2 separate regions of the Homo sapiens genome follow, and region 2 is linked to region 1. Evidence: fine-mapped expression QTL. Tissue or cell type: testis. Region 1 holds a variant in brackets; the other region holds the start of a gene. All regions are shown on one strand. Distances are between the middles of the regions.

What was found. PIP is the estimated chance that this variant, and not a neighbour inherited with it, causes the effect.
Region 2: it holds the start of POLR2E, and the variant in region 1 is fine-mapped to the expression of POLR2E in testis (GTEx, PIP 0.99).

Annotation. Positions count from the first base shown.
Region 1 is chr19:1,112,099-1,120,101 of GRCh38, reverse strand. It overlaps SBNO2 (strawberry notch homolog 2), which reads left to right. Exons shown (of 32, transcript NM_014963.3): 12 at 79-196; 13 at 481-586; 14 at 938-1,091; 15 at 2,603-2,779; 16 at 3,176-3,273; 17 at 3,999-4,081; 18 at 5,680-5,871; 19 at 6,398-6,567; 20 at 7,153-7,284; 21 at 7,565-7,700; 22 at 7,801-7,913. Among named protein-coding and RNA genes, the nearest start is that of GPX4, 12 kb to the right of the region's middle. RefSeq lists enhancers at 2,168-2,680, 2,681-3,194, 6,503-7,422, 7,423-8,003. The variant C/T (reference allele first, on the strand shown) is at 3,763.
Region 2 is chr19:1,090,857-1,098,859 of GRCh38, reverse strand. POLR2E (RNA polymerase II, I and III subunit E) reads left to right here and starts at 3,485. Exons shown (of 8, transcript NM_002695.5): 1 at 3,485-3,601; 2 at 4,782-4,956; 3 at 6,953-7,068; 4 at 7,872-7,952. The coding sequence starts at 3,545. RefSeq lists enhancers at 3,452-3,541, 4,299-4,834.

The sequences.
Region 1 (8,003 bases):
GGTCTTGGGTGGTCAGGACCTGGGCTCCTGGGGTCGCCCCCGTCCTTCAGAATACTCCTTAACCCACGTGTGCCTCAGATCGTGTTCGACGAGTGTCACAAAGCCAAGAATGCCGGCTCCACCAAGATGGGCAAGGCTGTGCTAGACCTGCAGAACAAGCTGCCCCTGGCCCGCGTGGTCTACGCCAGCGCCACAGGTGGGGCGGTGCGGATCCCACGTGACCCACCCGCAGCAGCGTCTTTCTGCCTGGCTGTCCCCGCGAAGGGGTATCCCACACGCGTACTCAGCCTCCGTCTGCACCCTGCTCCTCCTCGGACACTGGGGCACCTCTGCGCCTGTCCCAAGGCCACGCTGGCTCTCTTCAGGCCCATGGCTCCAACCCCGCAGGGCCCCTCGTCGGGTGGTCCCAACTTAGTCGTCCCCTGACGCGGCCTCTGGGCCCTCCCGGGTTGGGGAGCTGACGGCAGCTTCCCCCCACAGGTGCCTCTGAGCCTCGGAACATGATCTACATGAGCCGCTTGGGTATCTGGGGCGAGGGCACACCCTTCCGGAACTTTGAGGAGTTCCTGCACGCCATCGAGAAGAGGTGAGTGCCCTTCTCACCCACGTGGAGGGGCGGCGGGGGGTGGGGAGGAGGCCTCAGGCCCATCAGCCCAAGGCCTGGCACTGCCACGTGTGCTTCCCCAGCACCCAGAGGTGCTGAATGTGGGTCGCTCGTTTCACTGCCTCGGGCTGCCCAGCACTCCCAGGGAAGCCAGCCCCTCCGCAGCCCTTCCTGCCCCGTCCCCGCCAGGCTCAGCTGCCAACTGCCTCAGTGGCCGCCAGGGCTCTGCTCCTGCCGACCCCGCCCTCTCTGCGACTGGCTCTGCCTCGCGCTCCGAGTGGCTCCATCCCCACGGGCTCTGGCCGTGCTCACGGGGGCTGTGTCCATCCGCAGGGGCGTTGGCGCCATGGAGATCGTGGCCATGGACATGAAGGTCAGCGGCATGTACATCGCACGCCAGCTCAGCTTCTCCGGCGTCACCTTCCGCATCGAGGAGATCCCGCTGGCCCCAGCCTTCGAGTGCGTCTACAACCGCGCGGCCCTGCTGGTGAGCCTGCGCACCCGACCCGGGGACCCCTGTGCGTTTCCCGGGTGAAATTGCTCCCCCGTGGCCTTGCAGATGCCACAGGCGTCATCAGGTGACGGCCCGCCCTGTCCTGTCCTGGGGTTTTTTTTTTGTTGTTTTTTTGAGACAGTCTCGTGCTGTCATCTAGGCTGGAGTGCTGTGGTGTGATCTCAGTTCACTGCAACCTCTGCCTCTTGGGTTTAAGCGATTCTCCCCCCTCAGCCTCTCGAGTAGCTGGAGTTACAGGTGCCCGCCTCCACACCCAGCTAATTTTGTGTATTTTTTGGTAGAGAACGGTGTTTCTCCATGTTGGCCAGGTTGGTTTCAAACTCCTGACCGCAAGTGATCTGCCCGCCTCGGCCTCCCACAGTGCTGGGATGACAGGCGTGAGCCACGTGCCCGGCCATCACTGGGGTTTTTATGTGGCTGTGATAACGAGGGATGGGACCAAACCACCGCCCCCCTTCCTGTGGTGCCCAAGCCCTTTGCCCCCAGGTCCTGGCCCACAGCTGGCAGTTGGTAGCCGTGTTCAGCATCCACATTGCTGTGGGCCATGTGGCTTGGTCGTTCCCTCCATGTTTGGACAGGTCCTGTTTTCTCCCCCTCACGCCCAACAGCCCTGTATGTTCGATGGTTTTTTTTTTTTATTTTTTGAGACGGGGTTTCCACTCTTGTTGCCCAGGCTGGAGTGCAATGGCACGATCTTGGCTCACCGCAACCTCCGCCTACCAGATTCAAGCAATTCTCCTGCCTCAGCCTCCCGCGTAGCTGGGGTTACAGGCATGTGCCACCAGCCCGGCCAATTTTATATTTTTGGTAGAGACAGGATTTCTCCATGTTGGTCAGGCTGGTTGGTCTCAAACTCCTGAGCTCAGGCGATCTGACCGCCTCAGCCTCCCAAAGTGCTGTGATTACAGGCGTGAGCCACCACACCCAGCCTCTTCACTCGTTTCTTTAGGTGACACAACCAGCATCTCCCGTAACCCCCAGGGCCGGGTTGCTCTCCGGGGTGGGGCCGTCCTGAGCACTTTGGGGTATGGAGCAGCATCCGTGGCCAGAGTCCCAGCCACCCTAACCCAGCCCACCCAGTCATGCCGGGACCAGCCCCCAAACCTGACCACCACAGCCAGCCCCAGACATGCCCAGTGTCCCCTGGACAGGATCACACCTGGGTGAGACCCTGGTCCAAAGCAAGAGAGGCGTGGCTGCGAGCACCCTGTGTTCTTGGAAGGAGCTGAGCCTGTTTGCCGCGGGCGCGGAGTCTGTGCAGTTTGCAGCACGGCTTCCCCACCACGAGTGTTTTGGTTTTTCAGGTTTTTGCCGTACAGGTAGAGGCAGTGCCTCTTACAGTGCACACCCCCAGCACCCCCATCCTGCCCTAAATTCCACCTGGCGTGGGGATGCCTTGCCCAGGGCTGGCGGCAGGTGGGCCGGGGCCCGGGTCGGGAGCCAGGAGCCACAGCTCAGGGGCGCCTTGTGACGTGTCATTGCAGTGGGCCGAGGCCCTGAACGTGTTCCAGCAGGCGGCCGACTGGATCGGCCTGGAGTCGCGCAAGTCCCTGTGGGGCCAGTTCTGGTCGGCACACCAGCGCTTCTTCAAGTATCTGTGCATCGCAGCCAAGGTGCGCCGGCTGGTGGAGCTGGCCCGAGAGGAGCTGGCGCGAGACAAGGTGAGCGGCTGCGGCCTTCGAGGGCTGAGGGCGGCCGGGCCTGCAGGGGCGGAGGCTGCTCTTCTTCCAGGTCCTTCCTGGCCCCTCCCCAGACGTGGGCGGGGGCTGCACCCTGGTGGGTGAGAGACGCCCGGATGTCCGTCTTCCAATCAGAGCCAGCCAGGGTGTCAGAACAGCGGAGTGTGACCACACAGTGGGCAGCTCACCATCCCGAGACAGGCAGCCGGCAGACCCCCACCCAGCAGTGTGTGTTGTAGGGGGGCCGTGGCCCCTCCTGGGGAGGCGAGCACAGCAGCAGAGTGAGGGATGTGGCCATCACCCCAGGCCTGGCAGGTTCTGGCCCCACAGAGGCCCCACAGCAGGGCTGGTGGCTCACAGTCCTCTGCCGTCCCACAGTGCGTGGTCATCGGGCTGCAGTCCACGGGCGAGGCGCGCACGCGGGAGGTGCTGGGGGAGAACGATGGGCACCTCAACTGCTTCGTCTCGGCCGCTGAGTAAGTGTCACGGTGGGGACAGGACTGTGGGCTTCCTGCGCTCATGGCCACCCCTCTCTGTGGCCACCTGTGGCCTGACCCTGCCCCTTGGCCCCAGCAGCAGGAGGTGCTGGGGTGGGCTTTGCTGGGCCCCCAGCCTCAGCCACAGAGGCCTTCACCGCTGCTCCAGGTCTAAAGCAGAGGCTTGGAGGTGGACCCCAGGCATGGTGGGCCTGGAAGGTTTGGGACATGGTCTCCAGGGGTCTCAGAAGGAGGCTTCCTGCATCTGTGCCGTTTTAACAAGGGGGCTGTGGATTTTAGGGGCTGGCCCTCCCAGCTGTCTGAAGCCCCAGCCTCTCCCCTGTTGGTTGAGAATGCCCCGGGAGGGTCACAGCAGCCCCCCTAGATCCCCCCATTGCCTGGGGGTCGGAGCTCCCCAATGCCCCCAGCTACCCCTTCACCCTGCCCCCTGCCCCTGTCCTGGGAGCCATCATCATATCCGGCCACATT[C/T]CTCAGAGCGGGGGAAGCCTGGTGGCCGAGGTGGCCCTGTGACACCAGGAGGCCAGAGGAGAGCTCACAGGCAGCCCCCAGTCCTCCCCAGCCCACTCCACACAGGAGACCCTCTGCCCAGGCCCGGTCCTGTCCGGGACCCCCACAGGGACCCAGGGGTGCGTCCAGCTCCTGGAGAGCAACCCCGCCTGGCCTCAGCTCCTCGTGTGAGAATAAACTCCGCGTCTCACTTTCAGAGGCGTGTTCCTGTCGCTAATTCAGAAGCACTTTCCGTCCACCAAGAGAAAGCGGGACAGAGGAGCGGGCAGCAAGCGGAAACGTAAGCCCTGCCCCCCATGGCCCCACCCACCCCTGCCCCTCTGCTTTCTCCCCCCGGGGGCTGGCTGGTCGCTCCCTGCTTCCCCCACTCCCCCGTCCACTCAGCCAAATGCAGGTCCTGTCCGTGCCAGGCAGGCTCAAGGCTCCGCTGCCAGTGGCAGGTCTTGCGTGGACCCTGCCATGGAACGCTTAGGGAAGAGGAAGCAACAGACAGCCTGAAGGACACAGACGTGGGTGCCGAGCGAGACCCGGGGGGCGGGACACGGACGCGGGTGCTGAGCGAGACCCCTCCCACCTTCCGTTTTCAGGGTCTCCACGGTCCCTTGGGGAGCCCATTGATAACCCCCAGGCTTCTGTCACAGGGAAGCCCAGAGCTGCCTGTCGAAGTCTGGTGTGTGGCCTCCCCAGGCACCCCGCGTGTCCACCATACTGGCCAGGCCTGAAAGGACGTTGGATATGGGTTTATTAATATTGTCCCGTTGGCTGGGCGTGGTGGCTCACGCCTGTAATCCCAGCACTTTGGGAGGCCGAGGCGGGTGGATCACCTGAGGTCAGGAGTTTAAGACCAGCCTGGCCAACATGGTGAGACCCTGTCTCTACTAAAAATACAAAAATTAGCTGGGCGTGGTGGTGGACGCCTATAATCCCAGCTACTTGGGAGGCTGAGGCAGGGGAATCGCTTGAACCTGAGAGGTGGAGATTGCAGTGAGCCGAGATCATGCCACTGCACTCCAACTTGGGTGACAGAAAAAACTCTTGTCTCAAAAAAATTAATAAAAATAAAATATTGGCTAGGTGCAGTGGGTCACGCCTGTTGTAATCCCAGCACTTTGGAAGGCTGAGGCGGGCAAATCACCTGAGGCCAGGAGTTTGAGACCAGCCTGGCCAACATGGTGAAACTCCATCTCTACTAAAAATAGAAAAATTAGCCAGGTGTGGTGGTGCATGCTTGTAATACCAGCTGCTCAGGAGGCTGAGGCAGGGGAATTGCTTGAACCCGGGAGGTGGAGGTTGCAGTGAGCTGAGATCGCACCACTGCACTCCAGCCTGGGCAACAGAGTGAAACTCCATCTCAAAAATAAATAAATAAGCCAGGCGTGGTGGTTCACGCCTATAATCCCAGCACTTTGGGAGGCTGAGGCAGGTGGATCACGAGGTCAGGAGATCGACACCATCCTGGCCAACATGGTGAAACCCCATCTCTACTAAAATACAAAAGATTAGCCAGGCGTGGTGGTGGGCGCCTGTAATCCCACCTACTCAGGAGGCTGAGGCAGGAGAATCGCTTGAATCCAGGAGGCAGAGAGTGCAGTGAGATGCCACCGTTCTCCAGCCTGGCGACAGAGTAAGACTCCGTCTCAAAAGAAAATAAATAAATAAAATATGGCCCCCCACACCGTACCCTCCTGGCCACAGGGCACGGGGTTCCCTAGAGGGCGTCCCTGGAGAACAGCTGAGCTGCTTGCCCAGAGGCAGGGGGTTCTCGGATGGACCTCCCCAGCTCGGACCACTGGCCTTGCTCTGTCCTGCTGCGTCTCCTCCACCTGCTCCTCCACCTTGCTGCGGTCTGGCCCTCGGTGACCCTGTCCTTCCCTGCAGGGCGACCTCGGGGACGCGGGGCCAAAGCCCCCCGGCTGGCGTGCGAGACAGCGGGCGTCATCCGCATCAGTGACGACAGCAGCACGGAGTCGGACCCTGGCCTGGACAGCGACTTCAACTCCTCCCCCGAGTCCCTGGTGGATGACGACGTTGTCATCGTTGATGCAGTCGGGCTCCCCAGTGACGACCGGGGTGAGGGCTTGCCCAGGCTGGCCAGCCACCTGTGGGTCAGGATTCCAGTCCAGGCTGAGCAGCCACCTCTGGGTCAGGATTCCAGCCTGAGGCTCCCCCGGCCTCCTGGCGGTCACCACCCACCCCAGGTTGTAGCCCTCAGTCCAGCCCACCTGAGCCCAGCTGCTGCTATGGTGCCCACTTTACAGATGGGGGAAACTGAGGCCCAGAGAGGGGAGGTCAGGGGTTATACCACTGGTCAGAGGCAGAGCTGGGGCTTGGGGCTGGGCAGTCCCTACCCCTGTGGAGGCAGTGAGGTCACAGTGTTTGGTCCGCGACAGGAGGCTTAGTCTCGCCCCAGCTGGTCTCAGGGAGACAAGTGCAGAAAAGCAGTCCTGGGCCACGGTGCCGGGCTTCCCCGCCACCCTGCCGTCCCTCAGGGTTGCCCCGGGCCCCTTGTCCTTGCCCTCCAGGGGCCAGCCTTGAGTTAGGTGGGCCCTAGAAGGCAGCCAACATGTCCTGCCCTGACCCTCCACCTCCTCCCTAGGACCCCTGTGCCTCCTGCAGAGAGACCCGCATGGCCCCGGGGTCCTGGAGCGGGTGGAGCGGCTGAAGCAGGATCTGCTGGACAAAGTGCGGCGGCTGGGCCGGGAACTGCCAGTCAACACCCTGGACGAGCTCATCGACCAGCTGGGCGGCCCCCAGCGGGTGGCGGAGGTGGGTGGGACGTGGCAGCTGGAGTGTGGTGGGCGGGGCATGGGCAGTGGGTGGGGCTTCACGCAGGCTGTGTGCAGCTCTGGTGGCCCCTGCTGGTCACTCTGCGTCTCCGCGGCCCTGCGAGGAGGGGGCGTTTGGGGAGCCCTGGGGCAGCAGCGTGCTGTCCAGCTCGGCCCGGGAGGCCACGACCTCCTGTGGACGGCCTGCCCCATCCCTCTAAGCCCCAGATCCCCCAGCCTGGCCTGCGCAGGCCTCTGCTTAGATCGTTGCCTGAACGCACCCCTTGGGGTGCCCAGGGCCAGGACACAAGCCCCTGGGCCTGGTTCTGCGGCCTCCTACTCCCTGCCCCCGCCCAGCTTCACTTTTTCACTTCGTGGCGCCGGCTGGCTGATAATACCAGGCCTTGGACAGGCACACATCGCCTGGGTCCAGCAGTCCCGCCCTCCCTTTCCCAGCACCCCCACCTCCCGTGCACAGCTGGGAGCCCATGACCACTGTAGGACATAGGGAAGCTGAGACACGGGTGGCCAGACTCCTGCGAGGCCACAACACTGACGGCCGGTTTTGTCCCTGTCTCGGCTGCAGATGACCGGCAGGAAAGGCCGCGTGGTGTCCAGGCCCGACGGGACGGTGGCCTTCGAGTCGCGGGCAGAGCAGGGTCTGTCCATCGACCACGTGAACCTCAGGGAGAAGCAGCGCTTCATGAGCGGCGAGAAGGTGCGGGGCTGCAGTGCACTGGGCGCGGCCCACGGGACCCAAGAGGCACAGAGGGGCCCAAGGGTCCCCGGGGACTGTGGACCCGCGCACTTCTGGAGTGTGTGTGTGCCAGGTGCGGGCGCGAGTGGCCGTGTGGCGGGTGGTGTCCGCGCCCCGCAGGCCTCTCGCTGCCCCGGGACGTCCTGGTGACCTGGAGCGGGGGCCTAGTGGGTGAGGAGGTGGCGGCAACGCTGGGGCGGGCCTTGCACCAACCGTGTCCCGGCCCCTTCTTTCCCCCTAGCTCGTGGCCATCATCTCGGAGGCCTCCAGCTCGGGTGTCTCCCTCCAAGCCGACCGCCGTGTCCAGAACCAGCGGCGCCGCGTGCACATGACCTTGGAGCTGCCGTGGAGCGCCGACCGCGCCATCCAGCAGTTCGGTGAGTCCGGCCCCGCCCCCAGCGCTGCCTGGCCCCGCCCCCAACATGGTCTCGGCCCCGCCCCCGCCTGGCCGGGCCCTGAGAGCAGCTCTGCCCCCAGGCCGCACCCACCGGTCCAACCAGGTCTCCGCGCCAGAGTATGTCTTCCTCATCTCGGAGCTGGCCGGGGAGCGCCGGTTCGCCTCCATCGTGGCCAAGCGCCTGGAGAGTCTGGTGAGCAGGTGGGGGTGGGGCTGAGAACCAGGGACAGGCCCAGGAAGGCTCTCCAAAGCTTTGTGGGGTGCTAGAGGCCAGACCCCAGGT
Region 2 (8,003 bases), 21 kb after region 1:
CCAGGAGACCTGGCAACCTCCTGCCCTTTATCCTATTTAGGGAACACTTATGCAGTGCTGGTGTCAGGCGCCACTCTGTGTACATTGCAATTATTAGCCAATTACCCTACGAAGTGGGTGCTGTTCTTGTCCCTGTTTTACAAGGGAGGGGAGAGGGGACGCACAGAGAGGTTGAGTAACCTGCCTGAGATCACACAGCCAGGTCTGCAGCTCAGGGGCTGCTCCAGTGTCTGTGCTGAGCCTCCCTCCCCTCCTGCTGCTGCCTCCCCTCCTTCTCCGGGCTTCTGAACACCAGCAGGGCTGGACTTACTCTCCTGGACTCTGCTCTGCTCCCAGGACCTGGTCCAGGCTCCCGGCTCTAATCTTCACCACGTGGCCACCCTGCCTGCACGTCCATCCCCCAGACCTTGCCCTGAACTCCAGAGCTCACCTCGACCTACACGCCTCCACCCTCCCACCCCTCTTTTCACTGCTCACAGGGACAGCTTTGTTCCCTTTCTCCCTCTTTTTCTCGCCCTGTGGCACCCTCCCCGCTCTGTGCTTGCCCCTACCGTAGTTGGAGCCACCCCAACCTGTGGCAAGTTTGCCTTCCCACTCCCTCCCTGGTCTCTTGCTTCTGCCCTGGCTCCCAACAGTCATTTCCCAACACAGCAGCTCCAGACATTTTACCCTGACCAGCAAGGCTTCATGGGACCTGCCCCACCTTGCCCTCTGACCCCCTCCTGCCCCTTCCCTGCCAGGAACACTCCAGGTGAGGCACAGCCCCAGAGCCTCTATCCTGGCTGTGCTGTCTGCCTGATACAGCTATCCCCAGGCAACCCCAGGTTTCCTCCCTCTCCTCTTCTGGTTTTTGTTTGTTTTCTGTTTGTTTGGAGACAGTGTCTTGCTCTGTCGCCCAGGCTAGAGTGCAGTGGCGCAATCACAGCTCACTGCAGCCTCAACCGCTGGGCTCAGGCGATCCTAGATCTTCCCACCTCAGCCTCCCGAGTAACTGGGACTACAGGTGCGCCCACCACGCCCAGCTAATTTTTAAATTTTTTTGTAGAAATGGGGTCTTCCTGGCCGGGTGCGGTGGCTCACGCCTGTAATCTCAGCACTTCGGAAGGCCGAGGCAAGCAGATGATCTGAGGTCAGAAGTTCAAGACCAGCCTGGCTAACATGGTGAAACCCCATCTCTACCAAAAATACAAAAAAATTAGCCAGGTGTGGTGGCTCACGCCTGTAATCCCAGCTACTCGGGAGGCCAAGGCAGGAGAATCCTTTAAACCCAGGAGGCGGAGGCTGCAGTGAGCTGAGATTATGCCACTGTACTCCAGCCTGGGCAACAGAGCGAGACTCGGTCTCAAAAAACAACAACAACAACAAAAAAGAAATGGGGTCTTCCTATGTTGCCTAGGCTTGTCTCAAACTCCTGGCCTCAAGGTGAGAAAGAAAAGTTAGGTAGTTAGATAAGAAAGCCTGCACAGACCGGGCGGGGTGGCTCACACCTGTAATCCCAGCACTTTGGGAGGCCGAGGCGGGCGGATCATGAGGGCAGGAGATGGAGACCATCCTGGCTAACACGGTGAAACCCCGTCTCTACTAAAAATACAAAAAATTAGCCGGGCGTGGTGGCAGGTGCCTGTAGTCCCAGCTACTCGGGAGGCTGAGGCAGAAGAATGGCGTGAACCCGGGAGGTGGAGCTTGCAGTGAGCCGAGATCCTGCCACTGCACTCCAGCCTGGGGGACAGAGCGAGATTCCGTGTCAGGAAAAAAAAAAAAAGTAGCCCCTGACAGCCCCCCAAAAAGAATCTCAAATATCAGTGTAAAAAAGTCCGTGACTTACAACTAAAAATTACAAAACTACAACAAAGGGATCCTCCCCTCTCAGCTTCCCAAAGTGCTGGGATTACAGGTGTGAGCTATCGCGCCCAATGGGATTTTTTTTTTTTTTTCTCGATGGAGTCTTGCTCTGTCACCCAGGCTGGAGTGCAGTGGTGCGATCTCGGCTCACTGCAACCTCCGCCTCCCGGGTTCAAGTGATTCTCCTGCCTCAGCCTCCCGAGTAACTGGGAGTACAGGCACCCACCACCAAACCTGGCTAATTTTTGTATTTTTAGTAGAGACAGGGTTTCACCATGTTGGCCAAGCTGGTCTGGAACTCCTGATCTCATGCTCTGCCTGCCTCGGCCACCCAAAGTGCTGGGATTACAGTGATGAGCCACCACTGCTAATGGGATTTTTGCTTGAATCTATCCTCACTGTATTCCCTGACCTCCCCATGTGATACTGCAGTTCTCCCATTCTCCCCATGTCACTTAGCCTCCCTGCTCTTTCTTCTTCCGTAGCTTTGTCACTTTCTAACGTTGTTATTTATTTTATTTTATTTCATTTCATTTTATTTTTGAGACAGAGTCTTGCTCTGTTGTCCAGGCTGGAGTGCAGTGGCACGATCTTGGCTCACTGAAACCTCCACCTTACAGGTTCACGAGATTCTCCTGCCTTAGCCTCCTAAGTAGCTGAGACTACAGGCACCTGCCACCTGGCCCAGCTAATTTTTTGTATTTTTAGTAGAGACGGGGTTTCACCGTGTTAGCCAGGATGGTCTTGAACTCCTGATCTCATGCTCTGCCCGCCTCAGCCTCCCAAAGTGCTGGGATTATAGGCATGAGCCACCGCGCCCGGCCACGTTATTTATTATATTTTACTAAATCCTGTCTTTATCTGAATGCAAGGGATACTTGGCCTGTTTTATTCACCATCACTGTAGGTTGCTGAGTAAATGTTGAATTAACGAATGCATCACTGAATAAGTTACTGATAGCCTGCACACAGGAAGTGTTGGGCTGGGGTTCTCCGTGAACCTGGGGAAGTGAGGAGGTTTGCAAAGACAGGAAGAGTCTGGGGTGGGGAGATACCCAGGCTAGGCTGGGGAGATACCCAGGCTAGGCTGGTGGCGCTCAGGGGAGAGGACAGAGGTGAGGGGACTTAATAAGCACCTAGAGAGATGCCTAAGACTCTCAGTTAACCGTCTAAAGTAGGGACACTTTATTGCCATTGCACAGGTAGGGAAACTGAGGCCCAAGGGAATTAACCCTGACCTGGCCAGGAGCCAATGGAGGAAACCCTGTACAGTTTGATGCACAAATATTTATAGAGTTCCCACTAGGCTCCCAGACCATCCCTAGGAGCCGAGCTGCCCCTTGACCCCATCCAGGCCTCAGTTTCCCCGCTCACACTTCGCCCCCGCCTCGTGGGATTCTAAACTGTTGCTCCAAGGTGGGAGTTGAACGGAAACTACAACTCCCGAGAGGCTGTGCGGCCAAAGACACACGAGAACTACGGAGGCGAGAGACTCGCTCAGCCAACTGCCGCTCTCGTAAGGCTCGGGCTGCCCTTGGCGCTGCCGATCCGAGACGTTGCTGCATTCAGGCATTCGCCGACGACAGACCAGCGCGGGGCGGGGTTAGGCGGAGGGGGCCTGATTCGGATTCGGCGCAGGCGCAGTCCGCGCGGGTTCTCGCGCGGAGAAGGGGTGCGAGCGGCGGCGGCGGCGGAGGCTGCCATGGACGACGAGGAGGAGACGTACCGGCTCTGGAAAATCCGCAAGACCATCATGCAGGTGAGCCGCGCCTGGTGTTGGGGGCGGGGGCGCGGGCGGCGGGTGTAGGGGCCCGAGGTGGGGTCGAGCACGGCGTCTCCTCGTACTCTCGTCGGAGCAGCAGCGATGAAGGGCCGGGCCGATACGGGAGGCCCAGAGGTCGCCGGGGATACCAGGCGCTGGACCCGACCTGAGCCGGCAGCGGGGAAGGGAGGGGGTTTCGAGACGTCTGGGTGCGGTGCTTAGGGGTGGGTGGGCGGCTTGGGCTGGTGCGGCGCGCGTGGCGGCGAGAGGAGGAGGAAGCCGCGAATGGGGACGGGGGGCGCCCCCAGACTCTGCCCTTCTCTGTGATTCAGCGTCGCTATTTGTCCTTGCGTCCTGAACCCCATGGAGTCTTCAGCATCCGAGGCTGGCAGAGTTGGTGGTTGGGAAGCAGCGGGCGAGCTGGGGCTTTCGATGGGGACGTGGAGCTCGGAACCCGTGCCTTGGGGTCTGGGGCAGATGGAGGCCACTGGGTCGAGTCCGGTTTGGAAGCCGGGCACAGGCCTGAGGACCTGCGGTTCAGGGTATTGCCTCAGCCATTGGGGCCGTTTGAGAGCTTTTGCTTTGTCTTGCTTCCCACCCTTTGCCCTTGTCCTCAGCGAAGCCCCCCGCAGCCTGATTCTTCTTTCTCCGATCCTCAAACATTGTCAGCCTGAAGTCACATCTGTTTCGGTCCCTGTCATTTTTTTTTTTTAAGAGATAGGGTTTCATTCTGTCGCCCAGGCTGCAGTGCAGTGGTGCAATCATAGCTCACTGCATCCTTGAACTGGCCTCCAGCAACCCTCCTGCCTCAGCCTCCCTAAGTACTGGGATCACGGGCGTGAGCCTCCGCGCCCCGCCTTTGTCCCTGCCTTTAGGGTAGCTCTGCAAAGTGGTTTGGAGGGCTTTGCTCCCTGCCAGGTTTCTGTGAGGCTGGGTGGACAGACGGTCTTGGTCAAGGCTGGACATCTCTGGGAGCCTCTCAGGATCATACTGGTCCCATCCTGTGGTGTGAGGCTGTGGGGGCCGGGGTGGCTGTCATGGAGCACACAGTGAGTGTTCATCCCGTTTGCTGTTCACCTCTGTCCTCTGCAGCAGCCGCAGGTCTGACTTCCGGGTCACGAGCTTTGGCCGCCTTCCTCTCTCTGCCCTGGGGTCAGCTGGTTCTTTCTCTCTGCAGCTGTGCCACGACCGTGGCTATCTGGTGACCCAGGACGAGCTTGACCAGACCCTGGAGGAGTTCAAAGCCCAATCTGGGGACAAGCCGAGTGAGGGGCGGCCGCGGCGCACGGACCTCACCGTGCTGGTGGCCCACAACGATGACCCCACCGACCAGATGTTTGTGTTCTTTCCAGGTGAGCAGCGGGTCCCGGGGGAGTTCCGGTGAAGCCACCAGAGCACCTGCCGAGGAGCCGGTCGCTAGCACCCACCCCCACTCGCCTGGTGCCCAGCATTTGTCTCTCTGCCCAGTCTGGGAGGAAAACTCCCCTCCCCTTCCTTGCTGTGGGTGATGCCGTTGATCTCTGACCCCTCTCATGCTCAGCTTCTTTCTAGTTTCCCTCTCAGTCCCCTTCTCTCTTCCTGCCAACGAGGAGAGTCACAAGGGCCTCCCCACTCACCCCCAGCCCCCCATGTCCTTTGCCCTAGTGTCCCTTGGCTCCCCCATCCTGGCCGTTGGGTGCACTTCCAGCTTCTTGGCCTGGCCCAGGAGGCCCCGTCTGGGTCAGCGCAGCCTCCTTGTGAGCTGCGGCCCCTGCCCGCCCCAGCCCATTCCTCCGCACCCCATGCCCCCTCTCCCCTGTCAGCGTCCGGTACTCGTCCCTCGAGCTTGTGCTCGGGCCTCTTTTCCCAGGACCCCTGGGACCCTCGGTTTCAGCACCTGCTTTGCGGAAGTCTCCGCACCTGTCTGCCTCCCTAGTATGGCTCTAAAGCCCTCAGCGGTTGGGGGATTGCAAGCGCCTTAGGGGCGCAGCCCCACGCCCAGAATTAATCAGTGGGGTGACGGAGCACGTCTGCCAACCGGACCTGGTGACGCTGCTGGGTTTTTTTGTTTTTTTTTTGTTTTTGTTTTTTGAAAAAGAGTCTCAATCTGTCGCCCAGGCTGGAGTGCAGTGGTGCCATCTCGGCTTGCTGCAGCCTCCACCTCCTGAGTTCAAGCGATTCTCCTGCCTCAGCTTGAGTAGCTGAGATTACAGGCACCCACCACCACGCCTGGCTAGTTTTTCTTTGCATTTTAGTAGAGATGAGGTTTCACCATGTTGGCTAGACTGCTTTCAAACTCCTAATCTCAGGTGATCCGCCCGCCTCGGCCTCCCAAAGTGCTGGGATTACAGGCGTGAGCCACCGCGCCCAGTCTTTTTTTTTTTTTTTTTTTTTGAGACTGAGTCTCCCTCTGTCACCCAGGCTGGAGTGTGCAGTGGCGCAATCTCAGCTCACTGCAACCTCCACCTCCCAGGTTCAAACAATCCTTCCACCTCAGCCTCCCAAAAAGCTAGGTTTACAGGCATACACCATCTCACCTGGCTACTTTTTCTTTTTGTATTGTTTATTAATTAATTAATTAATTTTTTTGAGACAGAGTCTTGCTCTGTTGCCCAGGCTGGAGTGCAGTGGCGCAATCTCTGCCCACTGCAAGCTCTGCCTCCCGGGTTCACGCCATTCTCCTGCCTCAGCCTCCCGAGTAGCTGGGACTGCGGGCGTGGGCTAATTTTTTGTATTTTTAGTAGAAACGGGATTTCACCTTGTTAGCCAGGGTGGTCTCGATCTCCTGACATCGTGATCTGCCCACCTTGACCTCCCAAAGTGCTGGGATTACAGGTGCGAGCCACCGCGCCCATCCTGTATTGTTAATAGAGACCGGGTTTCACCATGTTGGCCAGGCCGGTTTAGAACTGTTGACTTCAAGTGATCCACCTGCCTCAGCCTCCCAAAGTGCTAGGATTACAGGTGTGAGCCACCGCACCCGGCCTCAGGTGATGCTTCTTAAAGAGAGCGTCCTGGGGTGTGAGGTCTGCTTGTTGGAGAGGTTGGTGCTGAGTCACCCGCCTCCCCAGAACTGCCCAGGGTGGGAGCCTCTCAGAGTCGAAGGTCTCTGCTTCTCCCTGGTCTCTGGGTGACTGAGGGGTGTCAGCCCCCTGTCCCTGTCTCCGGGTGAATGAGAGGTTTCAGCCCTCTCTTCCCCTGTCCTGGGATCCTGCAACTCAGGCCTCGTTTTGCAAACGCGGAAGCCGAGGCCCGAGCAGGAGAGACACCTGTGTGGAATGGGGCTGGAACCTGGGTGCTCTGGGCTCTGGGTGGGCGAGGGCCACGAGGGCCCAGGCTCGTGCAGGCCAGCACACTCTCTGTCTGCAGAGGAGCCCAAGGTGGGCATCAAGACCATCAAGGTGTACTGCCAGCGCATGCAGGAGGAGAACATCACACGGGCTCTCATCGTGGTGCAGCAGGGCATGACACCCTCCGCCAAGCAGGTGGGCACCCCTGCCCCACCCCGCCAGCCTCTCCCCCTCCCCAGCCTCCTCCCGCAAGCAGTACCCACAGGCGGCCCACGTGCCTTGGGCTTTGGGCCAGGCCAGCCAGGGTGCCCTGGAGGATGTGGCCGGGATGTCCGGCAAGCCCCGACCGCCTCCCTCCCACCGCGTCCATGGGCCCCACCCCAGGCAGCCGCCGTCCTCCCCCAGCTCTCAGGAGGGGCGTCAGGGCGGAGGGCACTGTGCCTCTCGCCAGCTCCTGTGGGCTCCAGCCCTCGGCCTGGTGCAGATTCCAGGAGCCGGAGGTTCTTTATCCTGAGCTGATGTCCAGGGGGACTTGCAGAGGAGGCCCGGCACGGGGTCCTCCAGGGGCCTATCCGTGTTCCCCGTCTGTCTGTCGGACACTCTGGAGCCAGGCTGCTGTGCTGTGACGGGCAGTCAGCAGAGCAGTTTAGTCCCTGGCCCACCAGCTGTGGGGTTCACGCAGCCACACAGAGCAGCACCCCTGTATGGGGAAGAGGTCGCCCTGCCAGCTCTGAGGGCCGCCCCTGGAAGCGTGTGATGGATGGAAACACATCCGAGTTTCCACGGCCACTTCACTGCTGGATGAGGCTCTCGATGAGCAGAGAGGCTGGGGAGGGGCGGGCTGTTGAAGGCTCCTGGGCTGGCGGTGGGGTTTTCTGATTCACGACGTGGGTGTGTTGTTGGGGCACACGAGTAAGCCCCAGGTAGCTTGAGGCAGGAAATGGGGTTGGGGTTGTCTGGGCCCCTCCGGGCCGTGCCTTAGAGCCGCTCTCTTCCAGTCCCTGGTCGACATGGCCCCCAAGTACATCCTGGAGCAGTTTCTGCAGCAGGAGCTGCTCATCAACATCACGGAGCACGAGGTGGGCGCGCGCCGCGGAATCCCGCCTGCGTGGGGCCGGCAGAGATGCAGC